Linked DNA regions of Homo sapiens. The protein of the gene in region 1 interacts with the protein of each later gene in a biochemical or structural test. Each region holds a gene or a part of one and is shown in the gene's direction. Other genes may lie near its edges.

Evidence for each region.
Region 2: of the proteins of MAPK9 (region 1) and CDC25C, one has a biochemical effect on the other in vitro, tested with the Homo sapiens proteins (one study listed by BioGRID).
Region 3: of the proteins of MAPK9 (region 1) and CDC25B, one has a biochemical effect on the other in vitro, tested with the Homo sapiens proteins (one study listed by BioGRID).
Region 4: the proteins of MAPK9 (region 1) and MAP3K1 form a complex in vitro, tested with the Homo sapiens proteins (one study listed by BioGRID).

Annotation. Positions count from the first base shown.
Region 1 is NC_000005.10:180,288,837-180,296,889, reverse strand, and holds the start of MAPK9 (mitogen-activated protein kinase 9), read left to right. Parts: upstream 1-4,806; 5' UTR 4,807-5,042; intron 5,043-5,614; exon of another isoform or gene 5,615-5,852; intron 5,853-8,053. UniProt on the Homo sapiens protein: Serine/threonine-protein kinase involved in various processes such as cell proliferation, differentiation, migration, transformation and programmed cell death.
Region 2 is NC_000005.10:138,286,590-138,293,881, reverse strand, and holds part of CDC25C (M-phase inducer phosphatase 3), read left to right. Parts: intron 1-1,765; coding exon 1,766-1,912; intron 1,913-3,141; coding exon 3,142-3,243; intron 3,244-4,318; coding exon 4,319-4,381; intron 4,382-6,614; coding exon 6,615-6,713; intron 6,714-7,251; coding exon 7,252-7,292. UniProt on the Homo sapiens protein: Functions as a dosage-dependent inducer in mitotic control. Tyrosine protein phosphatase required for progression of the cell cycle. When phosphorylated, highly effective in activating G2 cells into prophase.
Region 3 is NC_000020.11:3,799,264-3,806,555, forward strand, and holds the end of CDC25B (M-phase inducer phosphatase 2), read left to right. Parts: intron 1-784; exon of another isoform or gene 785-1,024; coding exon 1,025-1,066; intron 1,067-1,198; coding exon 1,199-1,235; intron 1,236-1,479; coding exon 1,480-1,602; intron 1,603-1,707; coding exon 1,708-1,830; intron 1,831-1,990; coding exon 1,991-2,125; intron 2,126-2,458; coding exon 2,459-2,539; intron 2,540-2,660; coding exon 2,661-2,837; intron 2,838-3,017; coding exon 3,018-3,113; intron 3,114-3,466; exon of another isoform or gene 3,467-3,545; intron 3,546-3,646; coding exon 3,647-3,709; intron 3,710-3,844; coding exon 3,845-3,943; intron 3,944-4,140; coding exon 4,141-4,274; intron 4,275-5,305; coding exon 5,306-5,417; intron 5,418-5,557; coding exon 5,558-5,698; 3' UTR 5,699-6,852; downstream 6,853-7,292. UniProt on the Homo sapiens protein: Tyrosine protein phosphatase which functions as a dosage-dependent inducer of mitotic progression. Directly dephosphorylates CDK1 and stimulates its kinase activity.
Region 4 is NC_000005.10:56,818,549-56,825,840, forward strand, and holds part of MAP3K1 (mitogen-activated protein kinase kinase kinase 1), read left to right. Parts: intron 1-1,684; exon of another isoform or gene 1,685-2,197; coding exon of another isoform or gene 2,198-2,268; intron 2,269-7,292. UniProt on the Homo sapiens protein: Component of a protein kinase signal transduction cascade. Activates the ERK and JNK kinase pathways by phosphorylation of MAP2K1 and MAP2K4. May phosphorylate the MAPK8/JNK1 kinase.

The DNA of each region.
Region 1 (8,053 bases):
TACTTCCTTGTGTGTGTGTGTGTGTGTGTGTGTGGTAAGTACTTCCGTGTGTGTGTGGGGGGGGGGGTAAGTACTTCCGTGTGTGTACTTTCTTACGTGTGTGTTGTACTTCCTTGTGTGTGTGTGTGTGTGTGTGTGTGTGTTGTAAGTACTTCCTTACCTGCACAACAATATTCTCCAGGCTCGTCTTGTCCATCCCCTGTCCCAGCCCTAGAATCAACCATTTCTCCAGGGATCCCTGGTTCCTTTTATGGCGAATGACATTAGAGAACAAGATCTGGGCTCTGGGTGTGTCAGCCACTGCTGAGATGTCATTGCTTCTAGGCCATCTCAGCTGACAGAGCAAGGCCATGTTGCATACACCTGTGCTGCATAATTTTTAAATGGCTGGTTCTTGTTTGAAGGATGCAATATTTTTTCATTCTCTCTGAAGCTAGCAGTAGTTTTATTTTTATTTTTTGAATTTTCCTTCTCCACAGAGTCTGTTTCTTTCAAGATGCAGTTTTTTGTCTTACTTTTCTTAGCCATATGACATGGAGCTGTCTGTTCAGATTCAAGGGGGGCTGACTGGAAGGTCTAAGGCATGGTAGGGCTGGTTGATGCAGGATTCACTGCTGGGAAATCTGGTGGGGGTGGGGGTGTCATAATGTTCATACCTCAGGTCTTCCCTTCAGGGCTGGTCAGACTTCTGGAGAACAGCTTGCTGGCTCCCTGCCTGAGGACAGTCCCAGCTGCTGGTGCTCTGGGGGATTCCCGGAGGAGGAGGGCTAAGGGCCACTGGGTTCAGCATTCAGTTATACAGCCCCCAAATAACCCTGTTTCCATACAGTGCCACACCCTCAGCTGCGCCCCAGCTCAGATGCCCTCATTCTAATCATCACCATGGAAGAAACTTCCAGACTTCTGCCTTTCCCAATTCTGCCCTTCCCTGCCATGTCCTCACATGAGCCTGTCTGCCCAGCATGGCTGACTAGTTCCAGAATGGAAGCCCTGTCTGGGGGACCATCAGAGTCCATTGTTGTGGGTTTTCAAACTCCATTTGGGCCTGCAGTGGCCTCCATGGCCCTAGAGTTTCCAGACCAGCTCTGCCCCTACCTCCCCTGGGTATGATGTTACAGGCACCTCCCAGTAAACGTCCCCATTGGTTTAAGTGCAGTTTAGTTTTCTACAACACACAGCTGGGACAGCCCCGACTTACACCCTCTAGCACATCTCTGGGTCCTTGTAGGGGAGAAGGGAAGATGTGGGTTAGTGCAATGGGGGGAGGGCAGGCAAAGTGTTGAGGGGACAGAGGCAGTCAGCATAAGGACCTACACCATCCCTGCTGCATGGGCCGCACCCAGCTCTTCCTGCTTCTGTCCTTCTCCATGCCACTTCCTACAGAACCAAGGCAGACAGAAGTGAATCCCTTGCCCAGAGGAGCACAGCTGACAAGAGTCGGATTGGAATCCAGGCCAGTCAAGGGTGGGGGATATCAGGATCACAGAAACCCGTTGGCACTGTGGCTGCATACACAGCTGGCCTCCGGACAGGTCCCCAATGCCCCAGGCACCCCTAGCTCCTCCACCCCGCTGTGCTCTTGTCTTAGTCTGTTTCTTATTCTGTTGCTTATAACAGAATACCTGAAACTGGGTAATTTACTTTAAAAAAGAATTTATTTGTTACAGCCCTGGGGGCTGAGAAGTCCAAGGTTGAGGGGCTGCACCTGGTGAGGGCCTTCTTGCTGCTGGGGACTCTGCAGAGTCCTGAGGGTGGCGCAGGTGTCACATGGCCAGGGGGCGGAGCATATTCACAGGCCAGCTCAGGTCTTCCTTCCTCTTCTAATGAAGTCACCAGTCCCACTCCGGTGATAACCCTTTAATCCATGAATCCATCGACAGGTTAATCCCAACCACGCTTAGAGGCCCCACCTCTCAGTACTGCCACATTGGAGATTAAGTTTGAACATGAGTTTCATTGAGGATAAACATCCAAAACAGCTCATCCCAAATCTAAATGTTTCTTAAATCAACTAATCAATTAAAAAAAGAAAACCTCTCTGGGCTGAACAAGGCGTATCAGTGAGCTAAAGCCAGCCTACATGCCTGGCAGTGCCAATCTACCTCAAGGTCCTCAGAACTCTCCAGTCCCCTCACCTTTCCCTAAGACCAGGTGACTTGTGGCTCCCTGAACACAGCAAGCAGGTCCTCACATCTGAGCATGTGGGCCTGAGCGCCCTTTCTGCCTAAGTCACAGGCCCAACACATCCTGCTCGGCAGCCTCAGCAACAACTTCCTCCTGCCCAGAAGGCCTTCCTCAATTGCTTCTCCCCACCATAGGCCGGATCAGGTGAGACGTGCTCACGTGTCACACCTGGTTCACGTATGTCGTGGCAGGATCTTTTCACTTGGAGGGTTCAACCAGGATTCTTGGTGCTGTTCCAAGGCCCCCCTCCCCACCCTGTCACCTCAGCTTTGTGTCCATAAATGTTCACTGTATTTCATAAACCAGAAAAAAAGCAGTGTCTCTGCAATAAAAAGAACTCTTACAGAAAACTTAGTGTGAGATATGTATAGCTGTGTACATATGTACACTGATTTTTGGTTACTCACTTGACATGATGTGAGTGCTATGAAGTTAGGCCTGGAGTGCTGGGAACTGGTGTCCCCTCTGTTTTTTTGTTTTTATTTTTTTGAGATGCAGTTTTTGCTCTGTTGCCCAGGCTGGAGTGCAGTGGAGCAATCTCGGCTCACTGCAACCTCTGCCTCGTGGATTCAAGTTATTCTCCTGCCTTGGTTTCCTGAATAGCTGGAATTACAAGCACCCATCACCACGCCCAGCTAATGTTTGTATTTCTAATAGAGATGACGTTTCACCATGTTGGCCAGGCTGGTCTCGAACTCCTGGCCTCAGGTGATCCACTCACCTCGGCGTCCCAAAGTACTGGGATTACAGGTGTGAGCCACCGCACCGCCTTCCTAATGAGAAGCACCCATCAGTGCTCCTTGGTGGAACCTCAGATCTGACAGCTAGGCTTTTACTCTTTTCCCATAATCCTCGATCCTGACAATTTCTGGTTTCCTGTTCTCTCTCATGCACTTGAGGCAGGTGGCAGGTGAGTCTGAGGTAGCGACAGGTGTGGGCCCTCCTCAATGCAGGCCACACTGTGACGTAGAATTTCAAGCAGCGATGAGCCATGCTCAAATTTAGAAAACTCCCTCTGGTGGCCAAGGGGGACACCATGCTGGATCCGTTCCTCTACCCCACCCCTCCTCTGAGGCTCTGGTGCCTCCAAGCGGCCTGGCCCAGACCTCAGTGCCCTTGGAACCTGGGTCACAGGCTAGCTGCCCTCCCCAAATTCTGCAACCACCCTTCACGCCACCCAGCCCCTTACCCTCCCCATCTGCAGAGTCCTGTTCCTTCTCCCCACTCTGGCCCTGGCCACTCTGTGGATCCTGGTATTGTGTTACTGCTGTTCTACACCACACTCACCATTTGTCAACCATTGTTCCCACTCTTCTAGTCCCCAAAGGCCGGCTCTCCACGGTTTTCCCCATGTGCCCAGCCTCAGTGCCTCTCTTCCTGCTTCACTTTTCAACGTAGATCTGGCAACATCCCAAGCCCCGGCCTCTCCCATCCTGTACGACCCCCAGGCCGCTGGTACCTGATCCAGCCTCAAAAGCAGCTCAGAGTCAACGGGTCCCAGTCCCTAGGGGGCTCTGAGCAAGAGACTCCTCGCCCCGCCCCCCACTCCTCTCAGAGGCTTGACTGAGCACCTCCCTTTTTTTTTTTTTTTTTTTTTTTTTTTTTTTTTTTTTTTTTGAGAGAGTCTCACTCTGTCACCCAGGCTGGAGTGCAATGGCGCAATCCCGGCTCACTGCAACCTCCGCCTCCCAGGTTTAAGTGATTCTCCTGCCTCAGCCTCCCGAGTAGCTGGGATTACAGGCGCCCGCCACCACGCCCAGCTCATTGCTTCGTATTTTTAATAGAGACGGGGTTTCACCAGGTTAGCCAGGCTGGTCTCGAACTCCTCACCTCAGGTAGTCCACCCGCCACGACCTCCCAAAGTTCTAGGATTACAGGCGTGAGCCACCGCGCCCTGCCGCACCTCCTAATTTTTAGATGTTGTCAACTAAGTGATCCCGCCACCAAGCGCAGTCTCCTCCTGCGTCACCGACCCACCGGGTCACCTGTCTACACACCGCCATCTCTTCGCACCCCCTCCCCCTCTTCGACCCGGCTTCTGGCCTCACCCACACCCCCATAGACCCGTTCCTCCGGCGCCGCAGCGAGCAACCGAGTGCGAGGCCCGCCCCGCCTACCGGGCCCTAGCACGCCGGGCTCCCGGACGCCAGGCCGGCCTCCCCCCGCGATCGCCCCGGGCTCTCCCCGAAACGGGCGGGCTCCCGTGCCGCTCCAGTCGCCTCACCGCCACAAGCCTGCACCTGCAGCCCGAGGCCCGGCTCCCCGCGGACCCCGCGGTGTGAGCCCCGCGCGCCTCCAGCCCGGTTCCCGGTCCTCCGGGCCACCCTCTCCACCGAGCTGCGCCCCCCTCGCAGGGAGAGCGGGCTCAGCCGGTGGGCCGCGCAATGCCTGCGTCTCCAGCTCACCGCGTGCACTGCGCGCACCCGAGCGCCATGGCCACTCGGCCCGCGCCACTGAAAGGCCCGGGGGCGAAGAACCCGCGGAACCCCGGCCCAGGACCTCGGGCGCCCGACCCGGCCCCCGACCCCGCCCGCGCCACCCTCCATCGGCCCGCCCCCCAGGCGCCATTGGCCGCGCCTGCTCCGCTCTCCGCGCGCTGATTGGTCGGCGCGAGGGTCTGTCAGACCGGGCGCCGCGGCGGCGGCAGCGGCGGAGAAGGGAGCGGGACCGGAAGGGTCGCAGCGCCCCGGCGCCCCTCACACCCACTGCGGCGGCGGCGGCGGCGGCGGCGGCGGGGCGGAGCGGAGCGGGGCGGGCCGGCGGCGGAGCCGGGGCCGCGGAGCCAGGAGTGACTAGCACGCAGCGCCGCCAGTCCGCCCGCCCGCCCTCTCCCCGTGGCGCGGCGGCGGGGAGGCGAGGTGAGCCCGGCGGGCGGGCTAGGCCTGGCGGCGGCTGCTCGGGCCGGGCCCGCGGGGAGGGGCGGTGAGGGAACCGCGCGGCCGGGGGCTTCGGGGCGGGCCGGGGGCTGCGGGGCCCTGGCAGCCGCAGCCGTCGCCCCTGTGCTGGGGGATGCCGCAGGCGCCCCCTTCCGCCCGGCTGTCAGCAGCCCCGGGCTGCGGGCCTGCTCACCGGCCTGGCCCGGCCGACCTGCCCGTGGGGTCTGCGGGCGCCATCCCTCCCGGAGGTGGGGCAGACAGCTGCACTCCTGCGCCGGGTGCCCAGGGGCCCGGGGTCGCGTCCCCGCGACCTTGGCCAAGGCACTGACCCTCGCTCTGCCGCGGTTTTGCCTTCGGGAAGGTGGGGAAATGTCTCTTCTGGACAGGGTTGTTGTCAGGCTGTGTGAATGTATGCAGACGCCTGGGCAGGACCCCGGTGTGCATCTGTGGAAGACTGGGCAGGGTGCTGGCCCGTGCTGGTGTGAGTGGTGTAGGAACCCCCTCCCCACCCGCCCAGCCTCCCGCCTCCCCGCGCACTCCTCTCTTGCCTTGTCATTGCACACTCGGTGTCCAGCAGTGCCAGAGGGGACCCAGCCCGAATCCCTTACCACCGCGCCCCTCCCCCAGAAGACTGCTGCCCCGTCCCACTCATCTCGCCCGCCTTGAACATGCCAGCCCGCATTTGCCCCAGGACCTTTGCATTTGCTGTTTCCCCGTCTTTGGAGTTGTCTCCGTGATCTTGGCACAAGTAGCTCTTTCTGCTCCTTCCTCTGGTCAGATGTCTCGTTTTGGGTGAGGCCCTCCTCGACCACCCTCTTTCTTCCCTTAGTCATGCTATTTCATTATTTAAAAAATTTCCTTCCTAGCTCTCATCTGGTTTGAAACTATTCTATTTATTTGCCTGCTTATTTTCTGTCTCCCCGACTAGGATGTAACTTTGTGAAAACAGGTAGCTGTCTGATTTGTCCACTGCTTTATCCCCAGTGCTTAGAAAGCACACAGGAAGTATTCAGTAGTATCAGCTCAATGAATGAATGAATGATCAAAGAAATGGCCCAGCCTGCCTGTTGTCTCTGCTTTATCTGTTCATTTAGTGACTTCTGATTAGCGTGTGAAACTTGTAAGCAGATGGAAGCTTGTTCTATTTTGTGAAACATTTTGGTGTCCTTGACCCCTTTAATTGCTAACTGTTGGAACAAGCTGTGATATAAAATCTCACATTTTTATAATAGTTTAGCTGTAGCTTTCTTCCACACATACAAGAGACATTTACTGAATTCTGCATTATCTAGGTCATGCTTTCTGCTAGACCCTACGGACACAAGGCAGATAGCAACGGGGTCCCTTTCCCGAGAGAGCCCAGGAGCCCAGTAGAGAAGGCAGGCATGCAGACACTTAGTTCCAGGACTGTACAACCCTTGCTATAGGGGAGGGGCTATGCCATGGAAATGTGGAGGAGGTGACAGGTGGTGCTGGGGGGCCTTGAGGGTGATAAGAAATTTGCTAGGCAGGGAGAGGCACAGAGGTGTGAAGGAGCAGGGCCAAGGAAGGACCGTAGGCCACTGTGGAGTTGAGAATCAGTCTGGAGGGCCAGGTGTAAGGACACAGAGTCGTGGGGACCCTAAAGAACAGGAACCTTACCCAGCAGTTTTCTAGAAGAAGGTGGAATTTGGCTGGGTGCCATGGCTCACGCCAGTAATTTCAAGACACTTTGGGAGGCTGATGTGGGAGGATCACTTCAGGCCAGGAGTTCAAGACCAGCCTGGGCAACGTAGCGAGATCTGTCTCTACAAAAAATTTTAAGAAATTAGCTAGGTGTGGTGGCATCCACCTGTAGTCCTAGCTGCTTGGGAGGCTGAGGTGGAAGGATCCCATGAGCCCAGGATTTGGAGCCTGCAGTGAGCTATGATCACACCACTGTGCTCCAGCCTGGGTGACAGAGCAAGACCCTGTCTCTAAAAAGGAAGGCAGCACTCCACATTTGTTCTGATTTTTAAATGTTGGCAATAGCTAATTAAATTTTTTTTTAATGCTGTGAGCCAAGCCAAATACAGATTCATTCAGCTTGGTTGCAGGATCGTCATCCTCCAGGACTGGCTGTGTGGGAGGGAGGAGCTGTGAGGAGAGCAGGAAAGGTAGCCTAAGGCCAGGGGAGCCAGGCCCTGTTTGCCCAGGTGCCAGCCCAGATACTCATTTGATTGTAACTGGAGCCCTGTGGAAACGGAAGCTCAGGAGTCTAAGTAGTCTGTTTCTTAGCAAGCAGCTGGTGAGTGGAGTTCGAACCCAGATCACTTCCCAGATAAGGATTCTTTCCTGGGTCCCTCAGCTCTGAGTATTCTCTTTTGGCTTTTAACTTGTTCTGGAAGAATGACCACCAATCTATTTAATGTTTTCCTCCATTTAACTTTTTTTTTTCTTCAAAAGGATCCTGCAGAGTTAAAAACAATACTATTTTTGCATAGACTTCTCTTTTGACAGCTTTGATTTTCCTGGCAATTTAATTTTCAGGGTGCCAGGACTTTAATTTGTTCACAGATTAAAATCTGTTTATTTGGTCCCGTAAATAAACAACAGAGGGGATACTTGAATGTGTCTAAGATAAAATATTCTTAATTTTCTGGATAAAGAAAAGGACCAGACAAACCAGTTAATAGCGAGTAAACCAGTTGTTTTCATGAGGCATAAGATAAAACAGAGACCAGATTTTTTTTCTTCTTGAGACTATTGATTTGCCAATAGGGCAACTATTTTTGGTCTACATACATACAGTAGTTACACCTCACACTTGGTTAGGAAGGTGCCATTTTTACATAATTTTCCTTCAGAATAATTAATTCCTGATACTTTGTACTTGATTGTATGAACCAGTTTCAACATCATTCTTTTTATTTTAACTTTTATTATGGGAACTTTCAAACATATACAAAATAAACAGAATAGTGTCCTGCTTTAACAGTTATTAACTCCTGACCAATCTTGTTTCATCTCTAATG
Region 2 (7,292 bases), about 42 Mb from region 1:
TAAGCCCGGGAGTTCGAGACCAGCCTGGACAACATGGTAAAACCCTCTCTCTATAAAAAATACAGAAATTGGCTGGGCATGGTGATGCGCATCTGTAGTCCCAGTTACTCAGGAGGCTGAGTTGGGAGGATCGCTTGAGCCTGAGAGGCAGAGGTTGCAGTGAGCTAAGATTGTGCCACTGCACTCCAACCAGAGTGACAGCGAGACCCTATCTCAAAAAAAAAAAAAAAAAGATAAGTTTCAATTAGCTAATTAATTCCAAACTCTTAGTAATATGGCTCTTAGCATAATTATTATGGTGTGTTCTAGAGAAGCCCCTTTTGAAATCCTCATCTAGCTTTCCCCTGCCTTCTCAGGGGAAAATTGAAGTTATATGAAGTCCTGTCTGTCATGGAGACCAGGCACCCTACTCCTCAGTGCCTCACCATATCTCCTTTCCTACCCTACCTTTGGTTGATCCATTCATGCATCACTGGCTTCGTGGCCTTGACTGTATCTCTTGGCTTCTTCCTTTTGGGCTTTGGCTTCTGCTACTGCCTAATTATTTCTCCATCTTCCAAGTTAGGCAACCAAGAGAGGGAACCTGATTGGCCTAGATTATTTTTGCTTATTCTAGACCACTAAATAGATGTGTTCAACCAGCAATATGGTCCAGTCATCAGTGTCTGGGGGGTAGGGTGGATGGGGACATAGGGCGATGTTTGGAAGGAGTCTAAGGGTACGTATAATGTGGACGGTACCATCAGCTGGTATCACGAACAAGAGGTAGGACCATGTGTGTGATAAACAACATAATATCCATAGCTGTCATAAAGCAAAATGTTGTTATTCTTATTTCGTTCTTCCAGAAACCATTGATCATCAAGCTGCCTTCCAGTTATGGCTCTCTTATTGTATAGCCCCCCTCCTAAATCAGTCCATAACAGGTAGTGCGATAAGTGTTTAGAGAAGGAGCTTTTGCCTGTTCTCTAGGTGAGAGGTAGAGATCTCAAAGTATGTGGCAACAGAGGATAGAATTGTGGATTAGTTGGAAGGTGTTATCAGAGGTCATTTGATAGACCCTCAACTCTGAATATAGCACCCAAACCATGCCTTTCAAATAAACAACAGTCTATCCTCTTATACTTTAATCTGTTCCTGTGTAAGCAATTCTCAAGGCTAGTTCTTCATGACGTTTGAGCCACTTTTTTTTCCCTGATGGGTTTCATAGTATCCATCCTATAATGGTCAGCATGCTATTTGATTTTAGTGTGTCCTTTTTTCTTGCATGATGCTTCTTTTGCTATTTTTCTTCTTGGCTTTTCATCTTTAGGTTTGTTGAGGTCCTTAAATCCTGATTGTCAATGTCCTAGGATCCCAGAGACAAAATGGACTTATGTTTTTTTTTTTTTTTTTTTTTTTGGTCACATAACTGGAGGGACTGAGCTTGTGTTTGCTTTCTGTTAGAAGAACTGGTGCATCTAAGACAGTCAGCTGCAGAATTTGGTTTGGCTAGTTAAGACGTCCATGGAGATGGAATATCATGCAGTCCAGGTAGAAAGATATTAACGGGCCTATGAAGACAGGTTGCCTACCCAAGGCTTCTCAAACTTGAGAAATCACCTGGGCATCTTGTTAAAATGCAGATTTTAATTCAGTAGGTTTGGGGTGTGGCCTAACATCTGGAAACCTGCATTTCAAAGAAGCTCCCAGGAGATGTTGTTGCTGCAGGTCTGCAGACACACTTGGAGGAGTAAGAACTAGGGGGTTTAATATTCCCAAACAGGTGAGCAGAAGTGGCCTATATCGCTCCCCGTCGATGCCAGAGAACTTGAACAGGCCAAGACTGAAGCAGGTGGAAAAATTCAAGGACAACACAATACCAGATAAAGTTAAAAAAAAGTATTTTTCTGGCCAAGGAAAGCTCAGGAAGGTAAGAACTTTTTAAGATGAAAATCTTGTTCATCTTCTATCTCATGTCTTTGCTTTTCTGGTATGAGGATTGTTTTATTATGCCTTTTTTGTCTTCTTCCTCTTTACTTTTACTTTTTCCTCTTTGTTCTTTCCATCTTTCTGTCTTTTCTACATCTGTATCCACGTGAAATATATATATATATATAAAATATTTATATAACATAGATACATAAAGTATATCTATATTGTACTTTTAGAAATGTTGTCATAGGCCGGGTGCAGTGGCTCACGCCTATAATCCTAGCACTTTGGGAGGCCGAGGCGGGCGGATTGCCTGAGCTCAGGAGTTCAAGACCAGACTGGGCAACACGGTGAAACCCCGTCTCTACTAAAATACAAGAAATCAGCTGGGCGTGGCAGCATGTGCCTGTAGTCCCGGCTACTCAGGAGGCTGAGGCAGGAGAATCGCTTGAACCCGGGAGGTGGAGGTTGCAGTGAGCCAAGATTGTGCCACTGCACTCCAGCCTGGGCAACAGAGCAAGACTCCGTCTCAAAAAAAAAAAAAAAAAGAGAAATGTTGTCATCATACCGTCTTCCCAACCCTTTTTCTTAAGATCTGAAAGAATACAAGGGAACTTTGGTATGGATATTTTACTGCTGTTTTACATGCAGTCTGACAGAAACAACATCATATAGCAGGTTGGTTTTGTGGAAAGCAACTTCTGAAAAACTTAGCCTTTGTCCTTTACCCTCCCCAACTTTAAAAAAATTAAATAGATGGGAGGATCACTTAAGGTCAGAAGTTCAAGACCAGCCTGGTCAATATAGCATGACCCCATCTCTAATAAAAAAAAATAAAATAAAAAATTAAAATTCTAAAATCTTTGGATATTTTATAAAATCAACTTATTTATTTATTTATTTATTTTCCCCTGAGATGGGGTCTCACTCTGTCACCCAGGCTGGATTGCAGTGGCATGGTCTTGACTCACTGCAGCCTCAATATTTATTTATTATTAAAAATAATAAATAAACAAATGGAGTCTCACTCTGTCTCCCAGACTGGAGTGCAGTGGTGCAATCGTAGCTCACTATAGCCTTGGCCTCCTGGGCTCAAGTGATCTCCCTACCTCAGCCTCCCATGTAGCTAGGATTACAGATGTGCGCCACCATGGCCCACTCCATCCACTGGTTTTTAAACCTTTAACATGAGGATTGGGTGTGGGGTGGGAATCTTGTCATCTTCAGGGCTTATGTTTAAAGAAGACAGTCTCTCTGTGTGACATTACTATCACTCAGATGCTGGAGGAAGATTCTAACCAGGGGCACCTGATTGGTGATTTTTCCAAGGTGAGTTTGGCTACACCCATCCTGTATTTCAGTGAGTCATTTTGGATCTGAATCTTCTCTGTTTGCCGAGAATGCCTGGTGTAAATATGCATCCTCACCAAGTACTCTTTGGTAACCTGACAGTGCTCTAGTGGTAGATCCAGGCCCTAAGCCTTTCCAGAGAGAAAGTATTTCTTATTCTTCTGGGAAGATCCAGAACAGGGGAAAGTATGAGACTTTTTACCTTTTTTCTGTTTAAAAACATATTTTAAAATTATGTAAATAATACTTGGTTGTTACAGAAAAAGTAGAAAATGAAGAAATTTATCCCAAACTTTATTAACCAGGGTAATATTGCTTAGTATATACTCTTTTTTTCCCCCCTACTGTCTGTGTAATTGCAGAAGGTACATATTCTTACAGATTTTTTTCTGTGTTTTCACAAACACATATACAAATACAGTTTTTGCTTTTCTACAAAAACAGTTTATATTGTTTTGTTATCTGTTGTTTTTCCTCTCATTTAATAATTATATCAGGGGCATCTTTTTTCATATTAATAAGCAGTTATGCTTCATTCTTTCTTTTTTTAAGATTCAAGGTCTTGATCTGTTGCCCAGGCTGGAGTACATTGGCATGATCATAGCTCACTTCAGCCTCGAGCTCCTGGCCTCAAGAAATCCTCTCTCTCCTTGGCTTCCCAAAGCACTGAGGTTACAGGCATGAGCCACCATGCCCAGCCCATTTCATTTTAATAGCTCCATATTATTTCTTTTTTTTTTTTTTTTGGCTGCTCATAATTTCTTCATAAATCCCTTCTTGTAAGATATTTGGTTTTACAATTTTTTCTTATGAATGATACCAAGATGAATATATTTGTAGAGAAATCTAAAACTTCGTACACATCCTTGATTTGTTCTTTAGGATCAGTTCTTAGAAATGGACTTGATGTATATGCACTTTATAGAGACACTGATTTTTTTGAAGGCCTCTGGGGTTTTAAGGGTCACTTGGAAAGAAGGACAAAATAAGGGTCTTTGATCTCAAACTTGGGTGTGGAATACTTGCTGTTATTTCAGCTCTTGTGTATTTCTAGGTATGTGCGCTGCCAACCGTGTCAGGGAAACACCAAGATCTGAAGTATGTCAACCCAGAAACAGTAAGCAGATTTCTGGAGATGGTAACTGGTTACATAAGCTACCATCTGGTCTCTTCTGTCCCTAAAATGCCCATTTCCATTTGTATTTCTTTCACTGTGTTCACTCACACAGGCTCCTTATTCAACTGAAGTTATATTGAAGGACTCATTTTTTTCCCCATTCTTCTCTCTCCTTCGTTTTTAGTTAAACAAATGATACATAGTTTTTGTAAAAGGGAAAAAGGGAGGGGTCAGGCATGGTGGCTCACGCCTGAAATCCTAGCATTTTGGGAGGCTGAGGCAGGCAGATCTCAGGCACTTGAGGCAGGGAATTCGAGACCACCCTGGCCAACATGGCGAAACCCCATCTCTAATAAAAATACAAAAAAATTAACCAGGCGTGGTAATGTGTGCCTATAATCCCAGCTACTTGGGAGGCTGAAGCACAAGAATTGCTTGAACCCCAGTTGGGGAGGTTGCAGTGAGCAGAGATCGTGCCACTGTACTCCAGCCTGGGCGACACAGCGAGACTGTCTCAAAAAATAATAATTACTTAAGAAAAAAGGGAGAAAGAAAGGAAAATAAAAAATCACACACAAGAAATGGTCTCAATTAAGGTCTCAATTAGGGTGACCATGCACCCTCGTTTACATTTTACAATCCCATTTTCATCTATTAGTGAGGGTAATTATTAATAGTGTTTGCTTTCATTCTCAAAAGTCTCCCAGTTTGTACAAAAATTATTTGGTCACCATACCCACAATCTCATCACCAGAGATAACCACTAGTCATATTTTCCTATGGCCTTCCAGATTTTATTTTATTTTTAGACATGGAGTTTCGCTCTTGTTGCCCAGGCTGGAGTGCAATGGCACAATCTCGGCTTGCTGCAACCTCTGCCTCCCGGAGGTCATTCTCCTGCCTCAGCCTCCCAAGTAGCTGGGATTACAGGTGCCAGCCATCACACCGACTAATTTTTGTATTTTTAGTAGAGACGGGGTTTTACTATGTTGGTCAGGCTGGTTTCAAACTCCTGTCCTCTGGTGATCCACCCTCCTCAGCCTCCCAAAGTGCTGGGATTACAGGTGTGAGCCACTGCGCCCAGCCCCAGATTTTATTCTAGCATATGTTTTATAGAAATGGGATCATGGGCCTAGCACAGCTCACACCTGTAATCCCAGCACTTTGAGAGGCCAAGGCAGGCGAATCACCTGAGGTTGGGAGTTCGAGACGAGTCTGACCAACATGGAGAAACCCCGTCTCTACTAAAAATATAAAATTAGCTGGGTGTGGTAGCGCATGCCTGTAATCCCAGCTACTCGGGAGGCTGAGGCAGGAGAATTGCTTGAACCCGGGAGGCAGAGGTTGCGGTGAGCCAAGATGGCACCATTGTACTCCAGCCTGGGCAACAAGGGCGAAATTCCATCTCAAAAAACAAAAAAAAAGGATCATGATGAACGTATAGTATTGCAATTTGCTTAGTGAGACATTATAGACATCTTTCTATATCAATAAGGTATCTATATTATCATTTTAATGGCTATATAATGCCGCTCTATTCTACTGACATGTACAATTTATTTTACCAAACCCCTATTATTGAATATTGAAGTTATTTCTAATATATTGATAATATAAAACAATGCTGAGATGAATATAATTGTGCCTACATCTTTGTGTACTTTTCCTGTTTACTTAAGATGTTAGAAATTGCTGAGTCAAAGTGTGATTACATTTATTTGTATATGTATTTACAAAGTTCCCTTCAGAAAGGCTGAACCAATTTGCACTCCTACAAGTAGCTTCAGTTTCTTCCTTCCTTTAGGTATCAACCTTTCCCTTCCATATCCTTTCCTGAAAGACTTACTTTCTTCCTTTTTGATGGTGGGTAGGGAACCATTTTGCATTTCTTCCTGCAATTTCAAGCTCTCTAGCTGCTGCCTCTGCCACTGCAGAAGTCCTTGGGCATCTCCTGAGTCCAGCCATGCCTATCCCCAGATGGGTAGCCTGAATATGGTTTTCCTTGGTATCTTGTCAGTGCCAGCTATTTTGGTTCTCTAAAAGGGCCACTTCCTGTTTCATTCTCTTTTGTGGAGTGGGGCTGAATCATTGCCACATATCAAATATGGGGTGACTTTGGAGGCTGGACATACAGTGGACAGAACAGGAGTATGCTTGTAAGGAACTGTGTCATTGACCCTTCTCTCCCTCAGAGTGGCAGTGAGCAGAATATTCAGTCATTGTTTCTGTCCAGGTGGCTGCCTTACTGTCGGGGAAGTTCCAGGGTCTGATTGAGAAGTTTTATGTCATTGATTGTCGCTATCCATATGAGTATCTGGGAGGACACATCCAGGTGAGACGACATTGTGGCCATTAGTAGGGGAGGGCTGGAGATAACTCTTTATTGAGAAGAGTCTGTGGACAAAGGGGTCTATGAACTCTAGAGTCAGGACAAAGATTACATATTTGAAGCACCTCAAGGCTGAGGTCCTCATTGTTTTAATTCTGTATACCTTAAGCAGGTTACTTTCCCTTTCCCTCCTAGATCTATCTCCCTCTTTTCTGTAGGAGCCAAGGGGTCCTACCTAGAAATAAAAACATTAATCCAAGGACTGAAGCACTTTGCAAACACTTACTATTCATGAACATTCCTCGCAGTGATCTCTATACTTCCAGTGGTTCAGGTCTATAAACATTTATTGACCATCTACAAGCTCTATGCCAGGCGTTCAGGGTATATACAGAGATATACTTAGACCCCTGCCCTAAAGGTGCTTATAGTCCAGCTTTTCTGGTCCACATTATCCCAGGTTGGCGTCTCAGTCATTTCTAAGTATTGGCACTGTCTATAAGCCCCTGAGGAAATACTTACTAAAATTCTTCTTCTACAGGGAGCCTTAAACTTATATAGTCAGGAAGAACTGTTTAACTT
Region 3 (7,292 bases), on another chromosome or scaffold:
ATTGGGTGGGGTTGGGGGACTGCAGGTTGGTTTTGGTGGCAGCACAGAGCAATCTTGCCCTACCCCCAAGGCCCATGTGCAAGCCAATGAAATTGGTCATCCCTGATGCCAGGTTGGCTGGGCACAGCAGCCCCCCGGGGGGGCATCCCCCTCATACTTTATCCCTGAGTGGTTCCCTGCCCTGCACCTGCTCTGACAGTTATACAGAGTTTCTCAGAAGCTGTGTGTGTGTGTGTGTGTGTGTGTGTGTGTGTGTGTGTGTGCGCGCGCGCGCGTAGATGCACAAAAGCTCCGCGTGGCAGGTGGTCTCCTGTAACACGGCTGAGGGGGCGGGGCCTCAGAGGGAACATGTGTTGGAATTCCTTGCCTGCTGGCCTCTTCTAAGGCAGGAGGAGGGGGTGGGACAGAGGCTGGTCCTGGAAAATTCCATAGGAGGGAGGAGAGGATGTGAGCCTGCACGTTTGTCACTGGGGGTCTACTGTATCAGACTGGAGCTGACTGGGGGAGCCCTAAAGCAGGCCCCAGTCCTCAGAGGACCGGGAGCCAGGCCAGCTCCTCACAGGGGAGAGGAAGCCTAGCCTTGCTGTTGTCCAGGCCCTGGAGACACCCACATTGCTGGGTGCCCCTGGCCTATCATAGGATGGATGGATGCCTTTCCTGGCAGCCATATGGCCCCGCTGAGGTGATTTGCATACAGGTGGAAGGCCTGGTGCAGGCTGGCGAGACTGTTGCCTTGGTGACGCCTCCCTGACCCTGACCTGCCCCAGCTGTCTCTATCACTGCCATTCTCTGGGCTTTCTTTCATTCAGGGCAGCCTTTAAAATTCCAAGCTGCCTCTTATCTTCCCCCTCCCCAATACCTGGGCCCCCTGATGGTGGGCGTTCTTCCCACCCCACCCCTTCCACTGCCTTGAGCCTTGGCCCTTGTCTTTGCCCTTACTCCCCCCTGGACTGGGGGCCTGGTGCTGGGGTGGGTGATGGGTGCGGAGGGAGCATGGGTTGCATGGGACCCTTCTCTGTCCTAGGTTTGAACAGGCCATCCAGGCAGCCAGCCGGATCATTCGAAAGTAAGTGTTCCTGGGCCTCTTCCATCTACCACAAGCTTTCCCTTAGGACAGGGCTCCAGAAGGGCATGCTGCATGCTCTTGGTCCCTGCCCTGCCTCTCCCAGCTCTCACCTGTCCCCATTTCCTCCTGTAGCGAGCAGTTTGCCATCAGACGCTTCCAGTCTATGCCGGTGAGTGTCTTCGAGGCCTGACTGAGGCTTAGGCATGCTAGCCAGGCATGGGGTAGATGAGCAGGATGCATTCAGGGATCACCTCCCAGCTGGGTGTCCCCAGGCAGGCTGTAGGAGATGGGGTTTCAGAGGTAGGTAGGTAAGTGGGAGGAGCTGGAGGAGAGGTGGAGAAGGTAGGGCCTGGGCTCGTGCCGGAGGAATGCAGCCTTCATTCCTCTGCCTGCCGCCCTGCCTGGCTCTCTAGGTGAGGCTGCTGGGCCACAGCCCCGTGCTTCGGAACATCACCAACTCCCAGGCGCCCGACGGCCGGAGGAAGAGCGAGGCGGGCAGTGGAGCTGCCAGCAGCTCTGGGGAAGACAAGGAGAATGTGCGCTTCTGGAAGGCCGGGGTGGGAGCTCTCCGGGAAGAGGAGGGGGCATGCTGGGGTGGTTCCCTGGCATGTGAGGACCCTCCTCTCCCATCTTGGCTGCAGGATGGATTTGTCTTCAAGATGCCATGGAAGCCCACACATCCCAGCTCCACCCATGCTCTGGCAGAGTGGGCCAGCCGCAGGGAAGCCTTTGCCCAGAGACCCAGCTCGGCCCCCGACCTGATGGTACATCCAGAGAGCGGATCCCTGGGAGGGGCCTGGGGAGGCAGCCTCGGAGAAGAGGAGGGTGGCCCTGAACCCCCAGGCACTGGGAACTTTTCCTCAGGAGGATGGGGGCGGGAACTATCTCCACCTCTAAGTCTGTGTCTGTCTGTCATGTGGACAGTGTCTCAGTCCTGACCGGAAGATGGAAGTGGAGGAGCTCAGCCCCCTGGCCCTAGGTCGCTTCTCTCTGACCCCTGCAGAGGGGGATACTGAGGAAGATGATGGATTTGTGGACATCCTAGAGAGTGACTTAAAGGTAAACAGCCTTGTCCCACCAGGCCCCTACCTTCCTATCCCTGGGTTCGCCCAAAAGAAGAGAGCTCTGAGCCCTTGTGGCAGGACCATGATGTCATTCCAGTGTCAGAAGAAGAATCTGAGGTAACTGAGTCACAGCCTAACCTCTGGCCAATGAGAGAAGAACAGGTGGCTGGTGCCACAGTGGAGGGCGGTTTGGGAGGTAGGGGAGCTTCTCACCCCAACCTGGAGTTTGCCAGGGAAACAGGGAAGGCTGTGCTGGAGGATTCCGGGACTGGAGGGGTTTGGCCTATGCCTGTGGGTTGTGACCCTGTCCTTGCTAATCTGGCCTCAGGATGATGATGCAGTTCCCCCAGGCATGGAGAGTCTCATTAGTGCCCCACTGGTCAAGACCTTGGAAAAGGAAGAGGAAAAGGTGGGCCTCTGGGGTGGCCCCCTCCGAATTTGGAGGCATGGGGTCCATCCTACTCTCCAGTGGATTTGAGGGATGGGACGGGGCCTGGGCACCCTGATCCCTAACCTGCTGTCCCTGCCAGGACCTCGTCATGTACAGCAAGTGCCAGCGGCTCTTCCGCTCTCCGTCCATGCCCTGCAGCGTGATCCGGCCCATCCTCAAGAGGCTGGAGCGGCCCCAGGACAGGGACACGCCCGTGCAGAATAAGCGGAGGCGGAGCGTGACCCCTCCTGAGGAGCAGCAGGAGGCTGAGGAACCTGTGAGTGCCTTCCTCCTGGGGTTCACTTTGGCATGCACCTGGGCAGCCACCCCCTTGGCTAAGTTTGTGGCAGAGGGCAGGTGGCAGCCTGGGCATGGCAGAGAAAGGGGGTACCAGCCAGCCAGAGCACTGGGGGGCAGCCCCACCCTGACCCTGGCCTCCATCTGACTCACTTTCCAGAAAGCCCGCGTCCTCCGCTCAAAATCACTGTGTCACGATGAGATCGAGAACCTCCTGGACAGTGACCACCGAGAGCTGATTGGAGATTACTCTAAGGTACCTGCAGCAGCGAAGGGGGTACCTTGGGGGCTTGACCTCTTACTGACTAGGGGTCCTCTAGCCCAGGGGCTGCTTGGGTTCCTCCCTTTCTCCCCGGAGCCCCCCTTTTCTTTGTCCTTTGTATCTTTTCATCCTTTGTTCTCACATAGACTCCTCCCTCTGGCCCTCCTTGTCTCCTGACTCCACCTCAAGTCAGTCCAGGCATCTGTTGAGTCTCCGTCTTATTTCCAAGCTCATACCTAGCTTGGAACCCCCTCATGCCTCACCTTCGGGCTTGGCAGAGGGTAGGGAGCAGAGTGTGGAGTTCATCTCTTCCACTTCCCTTTTTCATTTCTCTTTCCCCTTGGAAGGTTGTTCCCTGGGTGTCAGACCCAAGAGGTGCCTCTCAGTTGCCATGGGAACCAGAACTGAATTTGAAGGCCAAAGCAGGTGTGGCCTCTGATTTTGGGAATGAAACTTCATTCTTTGAGGCTCCTGGTCTTACCAATTTAACTTTCTCCCCTCTCCCTCATCCCTTCCGTTCCCTTCAGGCCTTCCTCCTACAGACAGTAGACGGAAAGCACCAAGACCTCAAGTACATCTCACCAGAAACGGTAAACAGCGTTGCGTCATTTTCTAGGCAGATTTGGGACTGTAGCTCCATTGTTGACCTTCCCTGGGGACAGGCTAGGGCCACCTGCCAGCTGCCAGCCTGACCTGCCGGAACCAACCCCCATGACCTCCTACAGATGGTGGCCCTATTGACGGGCAAGTTCAGCAACATCGTGGATAAGTTTGTGATTGTAGACTGCAGATACCCCTATGAATATGAAGGCGGGCACATCAAGGTAAGATGGGGCAATGGGGAGAGGCCCTGAAGATCCCACCTGGTTTAGGTCCTTGCTTTGCCAAGAGGGTGAATGGGTGGAGGACGGGTGCCCCCTCTCATGGGGAGGGTTCCTACTAAGAGAAGGACAGCGACTGCACGGGGAGGGCCCTGACTCCTGGACCCGGGGCTGTGCCTGACCTCTGGCTCCTCTGACAGACTGCGGTGAACTTGCCCCTGGAACGCGACGCCGAGAGCTTCCTACTGAAGAGCCCCATCGCGCCCTGTAGCCTGGACAAGAGAGTCATCCTCATTTTCCACTGTGAATTCTCATCTGAGCGTGGGCCCCGCATGTGAGTCCCAGCTCCGCCCAGCCAGCTAGTGTCTGCCCTGGCCTTCCCTGCCCAGGCTCACAGGTGCTGGCACCATTGAGATGGCCAGGGGTGCAAGTCCAGGTCCTCCTCTGTCCCATCTGATGGCCTAGAGCTGACCTCAGCCCCACTTCACTGTGCATGGTACCCGCCTCCCATCTCCCTCACTGTCCTGCCTATCAAGCCTCATGTCCACCCCACATCCATTACTGCCACCCTCAGAAAATTTAGTTCCAAGTCTCTAGCGGTGTCTTTTCTCGAAATCTAAGGGCCGCGTGTCAGTCCCCAGTACACGGACCCTCCCCATGTTCAGTGCTGTTAGGTCTCCATTAGAACCTCTTCCATTGGCATCCACAGCACCTGGGCCTCCCTGGCTGAGCTCCTTCTGTCGCTATTCCTGTTCTGCCTGGCCATCTGTCCTCCCACCCCTGCCTCCTCCTGGGTTGCCACTGGTCCATATGACTGCTAGTGGCTCCCCAGCCTGGCCTCACCCATGTGGTGGGAATCTGCACCCAGACGCCCCTTACAGAGTCGCATCCCTGCGGCCCTCCCAACTTCTCCAGGCATCCCAGCATATGGCACCCACCTCCACCTGGGCACCGGGCCTGGGCACTGGCTTCAGTCTTGGGTCCTCCTCCTCCCTTCTCCCCACCACTGATCCTCACCAGGTCTTGTCCAGGAGTGGCCCGAATGGATCCCTTGAATTTGGCCCACTTGTCTCCTCTCCTGCTTCTCCTTTCCTGGTCCAGGCACAGATATCTCTAACAAAGATTGTGCAACTGCCTTCTAGAAACGGAGAGTTCATCCCCTTGATTTTACCTCCTTCCTTCCGCCTCCCCACCCTCTTCTGTAGCCAGAGTGACCTAAAAGTGTTCTTGTGGTTACATTCCTGTGCTCTAAAGCTTTCTGTGGCTCCCCAAGGCCCTCAAAGGAGGGGACGTGGGGGATAGGTCCCATGATGTACAAGCCACTGCATGCCCCACTCTGACCACACCCTGCCCATGACGCCCCAGGTGCCGTTTCATCAGGGAACGAGACCGTGCTGTCAACGACTACCCCAGCCTCTACTACCCTGAGATGTATATCCTGAAAGGCGGCTACAAGGAGTTCTTCCCTCAGCACCCGGTAGCGTGGGTGGGGAAGGCCACAGTCTCTGTGTGAGGGTTGGCTTGGCCAGGCTGGAGCCATGGGATGGGGGGTGGGAGGGTTGGGTCCCTGCCAAACTTACCCATTCCACTGCATTGACCCCTCCTGTCCTGCCCTAGAACTTCTGTGAACCCCAGGACTACCGGCCCATGAACCACGAGGCCTTCAAGGATGAGCTAAAGACCTTCCGCCTCAAGACTCGCAGCTGGGCTGGGGAGCGGAGCCGGCGGGAGCTCTGTAGCCGGCTGCAGGACCAGTGAGGGGCCTGCGCCAGTCCTGCTACCTCCCTTGCCTTTCGAGGCCTGAAGCCAGCTGCCCTATGGGCCTGCCGGGCTGAGGGCCTGCTGGAGGCCTCAGGTGCTGTCCATGGGAAAGATGGTGTGGGTGTCCTGCCTGTCTGCCCCAGCCCAGATTCCCCTGTGTCATCCCATCATTTTCCATATCCTGGTGCCCCCCACCCCTGGAAGAGCCCAGTCTGTTGAGTTAGTTAAGTTGGGTTAATACCAGCTTAAAGGCAGTATTTTGTGTCCTCCAGGAGCTTCTTGTTTCCTTGTTAGGGTTAACCCTTCATCTTCCTGTGTCCTGAAACGCTCCTTTGTGTGTGTGTCAGCTGAGGCTGGGGGAGAGCCGTGGTCCCTGAGGATGGGTCAGAGCTAAACTCCTTCCTGGCCTGAGAGTCAGCTCTCTGCCCTGTGTACTTCCCGGGCCAGGGCTGCCCCTAATCTCTGTAGGAACCGTGGTATGTCTGCCATGTTGCCCCTTTCTCTTTTCCCCTTTCCTGTCCCACCATACGAGCACCTCCAGCCTGAACAGAAGCTCTTACTCTTTCCTATTTCAGTGTTACCTGTGTGCTTGGTCTGTTTGACTTTACGCCCATCTCAGGACACTTCCGTAGACTGTTTAGGTTCCCCTGTCAAATATCAGTTACCCACTCGGTCCCAGTTTTGTTGCCCCAGAAAGGGATGTTATTATCCTTGGGGGCTCCCAGGGCAAGGGTTAAGGCCTGAATCATGAGCCTGCTGGAAGCCCAGCCCCTACTGCTGTGAACCCTGGGGCCTGACTGCTCAGAACTTGCTGCTGTCTTGTTGCGGATGGATGGAAGGTTGGATGGATGGGTGGATGGCCGTGGATGGCCGTGGATGCGCAGTGCCTTGCATACCCAAACCAGGTGGGAGCGTTTTGTTGAGCATGACAGCCTGCAGCAGGAATATATGTGTGCCTATTTGTGTGGACAAAAATATTTACACTTAGGGTTTGGAGCTATTCAAGAGGAAATGTCACAGAAGCAGCTAAACCAAGGACTGAGCACCCTCTGGATTCTGAATCTCAAGATGGGGGCAGGGCTGTGCTTGAAGGCCCTGCTGAGTCATCTGTTAGGGCCTTGGTTCAATAAAGCACTGAGCAAGTTGAGAAACCAGCATTGTGTCCTGTGGGGCCCTGGGCAAGACCCCAGAAGCCCGCCAATGGCGGGATTGGGGTAGGAGACAGGGTCAGCAAAGGCAGGAAGAGTTGCTGGAGAGGTGCCCTCATGCTCTTGTCCCTTCTTCTCCCAATGTCTTCCATCTCTTGGGTGACACTCCTGCCAGGACTTTGGATTCAACCCCTCCTTCCCCTCACCTGGCCTCCCAAGCACTTCTAGGCTTGCCCTTCCTAAACTCGGCACCAAAAGGCAAGAGTGACCTCATCACTCAAGGATCATCAGTGGCTCCCCATTGTCCTCAGGATAAACTTAAAGCCAGCTGCAGTGACTCACGCCTGTAATCCCAGCACTTTGGGAGGCTGAGGTGGGCAGATCACGAAGTCAGGAGTTCGAGACCAGCCTGGCCAATATGGTGAAACCCCATCTCTACTAAA
Region 4 (7,292 bases), about 120 Mb from region 1:
AGTTTGTCCCTCTTTTTCAGGGTGATAGCTGAAATCAGTGAAAGTGCCTGTAAGTGGCGCCCAAGGGTTTGGAATTTTTCCTTATATTACAGAATTTAGGGGCTTTTTCTTCCTATTTACTGTCTTTGAAGAAAAATTACAGTGTTACTCTCCATTGAACAGCCTATTGTGAGTTTGGTAGATATAATTACCCCATCCTATTTTTGTAACTTAAAAAACCAAACTATCAATTTGCTGGCCCCGTGAAAGAACAAGATATGCTGTACTTGTTAATGTTAGTTTTTGTTTAAAACTAAAGGTATTTCACAGGCTGCTTTTATATCCTCATATAGCCCTCAGATTTCACTTCCTTTTTAAAGCTATTAGGCTAAAAATATGATTTAGTGACCTTTTACTAAAGAGGAGGTATAAGAGCATTATTACCTAAAAATTACTCTTAAAATATTAAGTGGGTGACTTTATAAAAATAAAGGTAGTCACATAAGTTAGTCTTCCGTGAATTTGTAAGTTTTTAGTTAAGAATGGTGTCAGTTTCATTTTAAATCAGATAAGAAAATTAATGCATTCTTCAAAGATGAACCTTAATATAATTCTGGAAGAGAAATATAAGAGCTAGAATTGTTGCCAACTTTTATTTTCTTTTCATATCTGATTTTGGCAAGAGTGACTGGTTAACCAACATTCCTTAATATACGATTTCCAATGCACTAAAACTCCATTTTGTTAGATACGAAAAACAGGAAGTAGCCCTGTTCATTGATATTCATTTACAACTTCCATAGCACCTCGAGCATAATATGTTGCATATTTTAGAAATGGCCACTGACTTGTCAACTTGCAGATTTCAAAATGTGGGAAGAAAGGAGTGTTTTTTTGCTTTCAACAAGAGCAAAAAAAAAACCAGCTACAGCTTGCCTAGGCTGAGTCGGCTAATCAGTCCTTGACACTGGCTGTGTGCATCCCAAAGGAAGAAATGAGGGGGTGGCAAGGTAGTTAATGGGGAATGGATTACCATGAGGAAAAATATGGGGCATTCAGAAATGCTCTCAGGTAGAAAGCACCTCTTTTGCATTTTGTACTCCAGTCATCTTCTTGGGTTGAGGGCTGTCTGTTACACAGAAGGCGATGGGAAAATGTGTCATGGAAAAGTAGTAGTCTCTAGAGGCTGCTTAGGAACTGCGTGTATATTACACCTCTAATCTTGGAATTCTTTGCTTCTATCAAATATATCAAGTATAGACTTGGTTGTTTTCCTTAGTCCTTGCCTCTTTCTATATCCTAAGTTAAAAGCTAAAGCAACTTAAACATGTAAATGGTAGACTATTAATGTGAGGAAATGTGTAAGATTAGGAGTAACCCAAAGTTGTCTTTAAGAAATTATTTAAGAACATGTTTAATCATGAAAGAAATAATCAGGGCCGGAATTAGTAAATGGTTCATTGCAAAGCATGAGATTAGTCAGATACTCTTTTCAGTTTGCAAAAATATATTAGGATTTTATCTGTGGCTTAAAACATACTCATTGAGCATATAGATATGCCTAGATACCTTTTACATAATCAACTCTTTTGCCTTCTGTGTGTGTGTATGATATCTATTATATGTATTATATATATGTTTATATATAATCTCATTTGATCATCACTGCAGCCCCCTAAGATAGTGTAATTTCTGTTTTCTGTAGGTGCAAACTCATCTGAGATGGTAAAACCTCATGATTACACAACTAGAAGACAGCTAGGATTCAATCCCAAGTCAGACTGACTCCACAGTCCATTTCTTTCCACTACTCTGCTTCTTCCATTTTCTTTTTTCAAATTAATAATCAAATTAATTGATTATTTTTAAGGAGAAATTTGTTTTGCAGGCATTCTAATAGACCATGAGCTAGGTCTCTACCCTGTGCTAAGTTTGCCTGTTAATGTATATAATAGGTATGTTTCTGTAACCTGGCCTTGTATATGTAATACAAGTAAACTGTATTTGGATCACCCTATCATGTCAGCCAAAGAGGGTTAGTCATTAGTGTTGAATGTTTCTTAGATTTATTGATTTGTGCTGTATTAAATCATAAGTGAAAGGAGATAAGCTGAAATTAATATGGTTCATTCATGGTAATCACACAGGAAGAGAAACTTTTACTATTGCTAGACCCTACCCCTTTGTTATTGTTTTAGATTTCATCCATTCAACATTTATGAACTTCTGCAAGGTGGTGGTCTTGAGTGGTGGAGAAAAAGATCATGAGTGCACAAGCTGTTTCTGTCGGTAGGTTGTAGTATGAACATGTTTCACAATACCGTGTTAAGTGCTATAAGAGAGATGGGGATACAGAGGGGATACAACATATTAGTTTCAAACTATTTCTGCCTATTTTCTGATAAGAATATATACAACACTGCATGTTCAGGCATGTTTTTTTTTCTTCCAAGGGAAAATTAAAAAGGAGATACGGGGAGCAAGAAATTCAACATCTGCTACTGCTAGTTCTGAAATTCTGTCTTTATTATTAGTAACAGCAACTCTACTAGTTACGAAAACAACATGGAGAAATATAAAATATTCTTTAGGGCATAAGATGATCAAGAAGATAGCCTTGTCTTTATTTACTCTATGGCATGTCATTGGTGATTGAGTTATGTTTGGTATGGAAGGGAGTTCTGTATTGTTAGTGATTGAGTCCTTTGGAATACCAGGCTGGTTTGATGCAGATGTTAATTTGATCGAGATGTGGAGATGTTGTAGCATACTAAGGGGAATTGTTAAAACTCACCAAGTGTATAATTCTGCAAGTACACATCTGTCACCTGGGAATTACTAAGCCACCAGACCTCTTGAAGCCTGGAGAAAGTGCTTGGAGCCACATGGGACAGCCTACACAGTACTGTAGTTAGTACGTTAACTAAGTTCATCACTTGTAAGCATAATGATGGATAGACATGGAGTGAGAACAGGGTCAGTACTGGGGTGTAGGTGGAAGCTTTGCTCTTGACAGATGTTATCATTACTTTTCTTTTTTTATTTTTAAATTAGAAATGGGTTCTCACTATGTTGCCCAGGCTGGAATCGAACTCCTGGGCTCAGGTGATCTTTCCACATAGCTGGAACTATGGGTGCAAGCCACTGTGTCTGGCTTTACTTTTCTTCATTGCCTAAACAATAATTTAAGTTATATGTTAACACATAATCTTCAAACTGGTCTTATGGTATTCTGAATACTAAACATCAGTTGTTAACAGACCAGGAACTTTATCTGATTCTTTGCACCATCTCCCAGCATCTAGACTAGTGTCTGGCACCCATGAATATTAGGTACCCAGAAATGTTAACATGAATTAATTTTCCAAAAGTGGTTAAATTAGTATATCTGAAGATTAACTTACTGTAGTGAGATTTTAATCATGATCTAGCTTAAGACGAGTTTTGAAGGCAAGAACTGTCTTTTTTTAGGAGTTTTTGTATATCGTTTGGTATTTATTTATTTATTTTTGAGACGGAGTCTTGCTCTGTTGCCCAGGCTGGAGTGCAGTGGCGCAATCTTTGCTCACTGCAGCCTCTGCCTCCTAGGTTCAAGCAATTCTCCTGCCTAGCCTCCCGAGTAGCTTGCTGGGATTACAGGCATGCCCCACTATGCCCAGTTAATTTTTGTATTTTTTTGTAGAGACAGGGTTTCACCATGTTGGCCAGGCTGGTCTTGAACTCCTGACCTCAAGTGATCCACCCACCTTGGCCTCCCAAAGTGCTGGGATTACAGAAATGAGCCACTGCGGCCAGACCATTGCTTGATGTTTAATAGCAGTAGTTGGCATTTAGCAAGCAGTCATTGATAATATTGACCAATTTTATGTAATGTGAGCCTTCTAATAATTAGTGTAGTTACAAAATAATTGGAGCCATGCTCAAACTGTCAAATATTGAGAAAACTGAATTCCTGGTATTTGAAAGTGTCTAATTATTTGCGTTAATTGGTAAGCCCCTCCTGATTTTCTACTTAACCATGACACTTCTTCCGTGGCGCCCATCTTCATTCTCTTGAACATTGATACTGGAAGATTCCCAGGGTGGTCCTAGGCCTTCTCTCATTCTGTCTTGTCGATCCCCACCCCAGTCTTATTAATGCCCTTAGATCAGTTATGGACCATTTACAAATGATTGCAGAGTTTATTGTCCTAACCATGATCTCTCCTAAAGTCCAGACCTACACCTGGCTACATGACTTCTGCGCAGTCAGATGTCTAAAACCAAATTAAAGATCTTCCCTAAACCTTCTCCTAACATGTTCCCTGCTCATTAAATGGCAGAACCAGAACCCAGGAGTCACCCTTGACACCTCCTCCTCTCACCTCGTCAGATTCAGACCATCCTTAGGTGCTGGCAGTTTGACCTGTTATCACACCCCTAGCCAGGTGCCCATTGTCTCTCATTTCCACTAACTTAGTGGCCTCCTTGCCTGATCCCTGTGTCCTTTCTCCTTTGCTGTCCGTTCCAATCTGTATTAGGTGGCCAGAGTGATCATTTCCAAATGTAAATCTGATCATAACTTCCTCCCTCCAGAAAAGTAAATGTAATTTAATTTTAAGATGTTCAGATGGCTTCCATTTGGATAAAGACCAGGAAATCTTTAACATGCCTGACCGAGTCCCTGCCCGGTTGGGCCCCTGTCTGCTTCTCCAGGCCCATCTCAGCTCACACTTGCCCTTGTTCCGTGGCAGGGTTGCGTGCTTTCATTTCCTCAGACTCACTCACTGCCTTCTTCTATAGGGCCCTCACATGCTCCCTCTGCCAGGAACACTGTTTTTCCATAAAGTCAGCTCCTCGTTGTTAAAATCTTAACTCATTGACACTTCCTCAGGGAAGCTTTCCCTCATCCACCCAGACTGGCTTTGTAGCAGGGTGTCCCTACTGTCAGTGTTGTGCTTTTACATTTGTTACCTCATTTGATGAATGACTGCCTTCCCCCTAGCACCTAGCAGGATGCCTGGCATAGGGTAGACACTGCATAAATATTTATTGAATAAATGAATGAGAGGGATAATGGCATGGCATGTTCAAATTAGTGGATCCACTGTTTTTCCTGTTTAGTCAGACGTAGTTTAGGACATAGCTGAAAAGGTGTTAAATGGCAAAAGTCTAGACTATGGTGTTTCAACACTGTAGATTTGTGATAGACTCATTCAGAGGTACCTGGACTTGTAGACGTGCCTGGTGGCTCGAGTGAAATAGGACAGCTTAATGTAGTAGAGAGCAAATAGCTATACTGCATGACAACTTTATAGGTAAGAAGAGTCTGCTATGTGTATATAATTATTCTGTACTTAATAGGGAGTTAAGAGTGCGTGTGTGTATATATATGCATTTATATATTCACACATACATCTGTGAATAAATATACACATAAAGGTGTCATGCATTAATATAATTATTCTTATTTTTAAAGTTCTCAGAATGTCATCTAAACTTAAGATATCATTTTTAGAATTCTTATCTGATAACCCTACTTCATCCAAAATTCATTAATTTGATCATAATTCAACTTGGGATAAATAAAAGTTCACATTTCCATTGAAGAAAATATTTGTTAGGCAAGTACTCCATGAGATTGCAGAAGCCAAGAACCCATGTAACAAAACATTTCAAAGTTTACTGTTGGTAAGTAAACCCAGCAGCCTCTCTTATCTAGAACATGGGTTAGCACTAAGAAGTAAGAAAAAATACTCTAAGCAGCCAAAGGACCTGTAACAAAATATGTGCTTTGAAGCACTTTGATTTTACACTTAGTAGAGTTCCCAGGGCATTTGCTCAGGATTGATACTTATTTCAGATGTTGTTCATGCAGTGTTGTTCATGTGGTGTTCCTAACATGCAGCAATTAGAAGCAGCCAGTTAGAAGGGGTGGCGGTGTGAGTCCTGCAAGAGGCAGGTTCCCCAAAGGCAGCAGTGTTGGCACACCTGACAGTGAGAGGAGAGAGGGAGAATAGGACTCAAAACATTGCAGTCGGGGGCCACCTAGCATTGGTACAATTAGTTCCATCTAGGGCAGCCTCTGCCATTTAAAAATATACTCAGTGAAGTGAAGTTGGAAAGCTTGTAATATAGATTAAGGAAAATTACTATCCAAGATAGTTATAGAAAGTGTCTTGATCTTTGAAGTGGTAAACCTCTAACTGTTCTGTAAGATGTATTTCTGTAGCCTTGATGATACTGAATAAATATGTACTTTAGAATTACATAAAAATGGATGCTGCTTACCGAATGTCTTATCTATTATCTGTGTGGAGAAATCTTTTTTGTTATTGTTGACCTGAGTCATTTTATACCTTGCAGTTTCTTTAAAATGCATAATAATCACCACTACCACTAATATACTGATCTTTTCCGGTTTTTTAAAAAAAATTTTTATTTTTTTTTTTGAGACGGAGTCTTAAAGATATTTTTCTTGCTCCAAGGGTCTAGATTCTTCTTTTTTTGTTGTTGTTGAGATGGAGTTTCGCTCTTGTTGCCCAGGCTGGAGTGCAATGGCACAATCTTGGTTCACCACAACCTCCGCCTCCCAGGTTCAGGCAATTCTCCTGCCTCAGCCTCTTGAGTAGCTGGGATTACAGGCGCCTGCCACCACTTCCAACTTTTTAAATTTTTGTATTTTTAGTAGAGACAGGGTTTCACCATGTTGGCCAGGCTGGTCTTGAACTCCTGACCTCAGGTAATCCACCCGCCTCAGCTTCCCAAAGTGCTGAGATTACAGGTGTGAGCCACCATGCCCGGCCAGGTCTAGATTCTTAAATAACCAAATTTCAAGTTTTGTACAAAGATTGAAGGAAAGCTAGTCTTTAACCAGGAAGAAAAGGATTTGTTAAGAGATTATCAGCCGTATCTTTGCTGACTCATTGATACTGTGGTGCCTAAGACATCTTGGCTTTTGTGACAGAATCCTGCATACAACTTTCTCCAGGATAGTTCCTCCAGGAGGGACCCCTCTGCCAGGCACTGTGGCAGTCACATGTCCAGGCTGCATCTCTGCCCTGCTCAGCCTCTTCATCCTTGCATTCAGATCTCCATGTGGTTTAGGGTGCCCATCAGGGTAAACACTGCCATTGTCTCTTTAATTGCTGTGCTCTTACTCTTCTGGCTTTCACACCTTCAGCTTCCAATCAGTCACCAGTTCTTGTTATTGCCACTCTCCTAGTAGCCTGAGAATCCATCCAACTTCCTCCACTGCCATGACTGCTAACCCAGGGTCAGGCCACTGTCAACCCACTGTCAACCTTTTCTTCACCCTCAGAATGAAGTCCAGA